2 separate regions of the Homo sapiens genome follow, and region 1 is linked to region 2. The links come from fine-mapping of genetic effects on gene expression. A gene starts in region 2. The other region holds a variant in brackets. All regions are shown on one strand. Distances are from middle to middle.

The links.
Region 1: its variant is fine-mapped to the expression of KSR2 in thyroid (GTEx, PIP above 0.99).

What each region holds. Positions count from the first base shown.
Region 1 is chr12:117,566,618-117,569,529 of GRCh38, reverse strand. The region is part of intron 7 of KSR2 (kinase suppressor of ras 2); the gene reads left to right. Among named protein-coding and RNA genes, the nearest start is that of NOS1, 210 kb to the right of the region's middle. The variant G/T (reference allele first, on the strand shown) is at 1,694.
Region 2 is chr12:117,967,676-117,970,587 of GRCh38, reverse strand. It overlaps KSR2 (kinase suppressor of ras 2), which reads left to right and starts at 1,598. Exons shown (of 20, transcript NM_173598.6): 1 at 1,598-2,512. The coding sequence starts at 2,333. RefSeq lists silencers at 1,196-1,305, 1,316-1,585.

The DNA.
Region 1 (2,912 bases), 400 kb after region 2:
GTAAGGTAAGACATGGTGTTTGGAAGCCTGAGTTAACCAGCACAAGATTTCCAGTGTATTTCAGTGGTGTTTTCATGGCCTTTATACGAGTCCTCTTTCCTCCTGCCTGCAGTGGCTGGCCAGACATGCTTGTACCTACTTCTTTTTATGTAAACAGTCACTTTAATAATTTTTACTTAAATAAGCCATGCACTTCTCAATTGACTTTTGCCGTGTTAGTGGATCTTTTCACTTGGGTTTGTACACATCAAAATCCAAGTGAAAATGTCAAATAACACAGCAAAACCAAGCACATCTTGATTTTCTCTCTTGCCCTGTGCATTCTGCTCTCCTATGTTCTTGCAACAAAATATATTTTACCTAAAAATGTCCAATTTTTTTGCAAAATCGCTGCAGCCACAGGTGATGAGGAGATAAAAGTGTGAAGTAAGCCATGGCTGGTTTGAGCCACCATTGCACTAATTTACCCAGACCTTAAAAAGTGGGGAAATGATGAGTGCTGATGTCGCAGCTGCTGCGAAGTTCCTGGAAGCTTTGGGAGTTTGTACAACAGGCAGGATATTGGCAGGATATAATTATGAGCAAGTATTTCAGAGATCACCAGCTTGAATCTTGAACTTACTTTTCTATTAATAGAAACACTTCAGTTTTTGCAATAATTATAATGGGAGTTAATCATCCTATATATGCGTTTTTACCTATGATAAGCAAAAATTTAGGTCTAATTATAGTTGTATCTGAGGGATGCTTATAATTCTACTGGGGGCTGAGGTGGGATTAGATGTGATAATGATGATGATAATTATGATGATGCTATCATGTATTGGGGGCTCACCCAGGTGCCAGACATTTTGCTAAACACTTTACATGCATGATCTCATTTAATCCTTGCCACAACTATGGAAAGTAGGGTCTATTATTACCCCCATTTTACAGACGAGGAAACAGAGGCCTTCAGAAGTAAACAGCCGGCTCGAAGTGTCACGGTGTGTGGATCTGTTACTCAAACCCACTGATCGCTCAGATTCACGATCCCAGACTTTTAACCGCTTTACACGGGCAAAGGGCTGGCTACACAGCAGGCCGGCAATAAATGCTACATGTCACTCTGCTTGCCCTTTAACTAAACAAGCAGAACAGAGTATAAGAATTTGGTCTCAATTCCAACCTGGACCAAAGCTTTTCCTCATCCCTCCCCCAGCCTGCCACATGCTCCCATCATCCTTTCTTGAATTGAAAGATGACAAATGGATCTTTGTGTTCTGATGAACACCTCTGGGTTCAGAGAGCCAAGAAGACTCTACAGTCGCTTTCTTCTTTTTCAGGGAAGGCGAGGGAGAGGAGAGGAGGGAGGGTACAGCAAGTAATACATTTACAGCTTCCCTTACAGTGTCCTTTTATGGAGAGAAAAGTGCTGGGGGTTCCTGGTGATTTTTCATGATGTCCTTGGAACCCGAGGTCTGATTTATATGTCAATACTTCCTACCGCCCTTTGCTCATTTGTATTGTGGTTAGCTATAGGCTAAAGAGCTAGACCCCACTGAGTTGTTAGCAGTGAGGGAAAGGGTGTTTTGATATCCTGTACTTGGAGCATACGGAGGCATTTCTAGAAGCACTGGCTCAAACAAGAGACCACAGGGGAACTCACATGAGACCAGAATGCTCAGTTGGTATGCAGTGAACCTGCACTTTT[G/T]GTTTTGATATCCTGCACTTGGAGCGTACGGAGTCATTTCTAGAAGCATTGGCTCAAACAAGAGACCACAGGGGAACTCACATGAGACCAGAATGCTCAGTTGGGGTATGCAGTGAACCAAGCCCTGCTGCAAAGGGGGCAAGGATTCGGTTTCGTGATTTTTTTTTTTTTTTTTGCGAGAAGCCTTCAGGAACACTTAATGCAGTGACCTGGAAAAGGAAAGCAGGTACAGAGAGTAGGGAAGATAATGAGAGGGGAACTTTGCTGCCCTTTAATTGCAAGTTTCTGCTGCCAGAGGGTGTCTTTTCAAAATGCTTAGCCAGCATTCCCCTCCCTGTTTAAAATCCTTCATTAGCTCCCCCTTGCTCTCGGCGAAATCCAACTTCATGACGAGACCGCGCGCCATGTTTGCTTACTCCTCTGTCCCCTCGCATCTCTCCCCTCTTCATGCCCAGAGCTGCAGCTTCTCCGAGCCATCAATCCCCGTGGCAGGTCATGTGCCCACTCATTGACATGTCTTTGCACCCCATTGCTACTGCCTGGATCTTTCTTGCACACCTCTGCTGGCTCTCATTTATCTTTCAAGCTCAGCTCAGCCACCACTTCCCTCCGGGAAGCCTTCCCTGACTCCCCTCAAATCTGAAGTGCCACCTTCTGCCCTTTTCTGTCACACCATATTACATACTACTATGTTTTATTTGTCTATTTACCTGCCTGTCTTCCTGACCAGACTTTAAACTCTTTGAAGGCAGGGCCATCTCATTTCTGGACGGTTCACTGTTTAAACCTCTAGCGCCAGCACAGTGCTTGGCACACATGGTAAATGCTCAGTAAATACTTGTTGCTTGAGTAGATCTCAGTAGGGACCTCTGCAGAGAGAGCGGTTCTTGACAATATAAGCTCCCCAAATCTGGTTCAAATCCAGCTGGGCTCATTTATAAGAGGCAATTTGGGCGCAGTAGGATGAGTAGAGAGATGTTCATGCTTGAAGCCACAAGAGATGGGTTTACATTCTTGGACAGTAAATTTCTTGCTAGACTGCAAGATCTTTAAAGAAAGAATTCTTGTCTTATTTAATTATTATACCTCCAGTGCCTAGCATAGCCCTTGGCACAGAGGAGGAACACAGTGTCTTCTTGTGGGCATGCAGGGATGAATTGTCCCAATTCTGCCCATCACTATCTGAATGACTGAGCTTGTTACTGGACCCCAGTCTTCT
Region 2 (2,912 bases):
CAAGTGGCTTCATTTAAGAGTGACATATTATACCATGTGTTCTGAGTATCACGTCTTACTCAGTCCTCAGCACAGGGCTCTGTTCACCTAAAGAAAGAGGTGCCTTTTGCTAATCATTCTAAATACATCTGTTGGGCAATGTGTGTTGGGAATACTATTAGATAAGGTGGTTAGGGAGATGAGGCCTCTCTGAGATGATATTTGAGTTAACAGTGACAAGAAGAAACCCACCAGGAGAGGATTAGGGTGAAGCATGTTCTGAGCACTGTGGACATAGAGTACAAAGATTTAATCAAGAGTCAGCAAACTTTTCTGTAAAGTGCCAGACAGTAAATCTTTCAGGTGTTGTGAACCACCGGTCTCAGCTGCAGCTACTCAACTCTGCTTTACAACGCAGGAGTAACCACAGACAATAAACAGATGGGTGGTGGTACTCCAATAAAACTTTACTTGTGGACACTGAGATGTGAATTTCACATAACTTTCACGTGTCACAAAATGTTATTTTCATTTTTTTCCAACCATTTTATTTACATTTTTAATTTTTGAATTTTTAGTAGCGACAGGGTCTTGCTATGTTGTTGCCCAGGTTGGTCCCAAACTCCTGGCCTCAAGCGAGCCTCCTGACTGCCTCCCAAAGTTCTGGGGATTACAGGCATGAGCCACCTCACCAGGCTTCCAAAAATTTCAAAAGGTAAAAACCATCTTAACTGTGGAGCCATCGTTTGCTGATATAACGTCAGTTAGGTATGCTGGGGTCAGGCCACACAGACACTTGTAGGACATGGGAATACTCAGAATAAGGCAAAGGCCCTTTTCCTCGCCAAATGGAAAGCCATCAGGGCGGGCCAGGCTACCAAGTCTAGGAGGCAGCTTCCTGAAATTCACGGAAGATCATCAGGTTCGCTTTATTTTTTCCCCAGTAACAAGAAAGGACAAACGAACAAAAAAGGCACACACACACAAACACACACCCAAAGGACAAACGAACAAAAAAGGCAAACACACACACACACACACACCACCCCCGAGCTAAAGACAGACGGGATGTGCCCAGGTTCACGCCGACGCCTCTCCGGCGCGCACCGAGGGTTTTAAAGTTGGGCGCACACCTGCTCCCAGCCGGAGCGCACCTGCTGAGCAGCACTCCGGCCCGGTCTCGCGAGAGCGGTGCAGGAGTAGTGGCCCCCACCCGCTCCCCGCCACCAAATCCCTCTCCCCGCCCCCTCGCCCAGCCTCCAGGCTCGGGCACACTCCCGGCCTCCCCCGCCGCCCCCGGGAGCAGGCTGGGCCCGATGCGCGCGCTGTCTCCGCGCCCCCGCCCGCCGATCGCTCGCTTGCTCGCTCGCACGCACTCCCGGTAGTAATTTCACTTTGCCACGCGAGCTCCGCAGCCCCTAGAAATCCCGCCCCCCGGCCAGGTGCGCGAGTCTGCGCGCTCCTCCTCCGCCTCCTCCGACGGGTCCCTGGCGCGCCGGGGCCGGGGCCCGGCTGGGGCGGCTGCGCGCACGGCGCCTCTCCACCAACCCGCTCCCCTGCAGGTCCCTCGCTTGGTCTCCATCCCTCTCCGGCGCTCCCTCGCTCCCCCCCGCCCTTTGATTGACAGGCAAGATGTCGGTGTGGAGCGAGGCAGGAGCGATTGCAGCAACCGTCACCCCCGGAGCCCGGCGGCGGCAGCAGCAGCAGCAGCAGCAGCGCGGGGAGGAGACAGCAGCCAGCCGCAGTAGCCGCCGCAGCCGCGGGAGCAATGCAGACAGCACCTTGAGAACGCGCTAAAGCACTCCAAACCGTGGACCATGCCGTGTCCCTGCAACTGGGAGGGGGGAAAACCAGATTTTTTTTGACATAAAAGCAAGCCAGCCAAAAATATATAATTTTGTCCTTCAAGGAGCCGGTGTGTAAAGAGTGAGCGCTATTTTCCTTCTCCTCCTCCTCCTCTCCCTCCTCCTCCTCTCCCTCCTCCTCTCTCTCCTCCTTCTCCTCTTCTTTTTCCTCCTCCTCCTCCTCCCTAAGTGTACAGACAGCATCACATCACCTGGTTTGCTTCTGAGAAACAGCATCTCTCCTTTTCAGGGACCAGAGACTCAGAGAGAGAGGAGACATTCTAATGGAGTCCGCTTGATATCCCAAAATAAAATAATAAATTTTGGCTCTTGTCCCCTCCTCCCACTCCCACCCCCTCAACCCTGTGTGAGATGTTGGATTTCTTCTTCATGAGACATTGTTGAGAAGTCGCAGTGGTTGGAGAGGCGGAGGGTAGACTACCTCTACTCCCCCCCCTCTTTTTTCTCTCTGGGAGGAGGAGGAGGGGAAGGGGGTTGCAGAGCAAGCGATGGATGAGGAAAACATGACGAAAAGCGAGGAGCAGCAGCCTCTGAGTTTGCAAAAAGCCTTACAGCAGTGCGAACTGGTCCAAAACATGATAGACTTGAGCATCTCCAACCTGGAAGGGCTTAGGACCAAATGTGCTACCTCCAACGACCTCACACAAAAAGAAATCCGGACCCTGGAGGTAGGTGTTGCCTACGGGAAAAAAAAAAAAAAAAAAAAAAAAAAAAGCAATCCTTCTTTCCCCCTCCTTTCTCCCCACGGTCCCCTTTCCCTCTGATTCTGTTTATTGGGGGCTGGGGGTGGTGGTGTGGGCAAGCAAGGTGGGCACGGTTTGCTTTTCTGTGATTTCTCTCCTTGCAAAGCCTGCATTGGATATCCTTTTACTGTGCTGCTGTCGTCTGCGCTTGGCTGGGTGGTGGTAGTAGTAGTAGTAATTGTTATTCTTTATTTATTATTATTGTTGCGGCTGTTACCGTTGTCATTCGCTTCCTCGCTGAGGAGGGAGTTCTCTCTTTTTTCCGCTTGTGGATTTGTTTATATGCCACGGGGGCTTGTGTGCCGGGTAATACATTAAGGAGCTG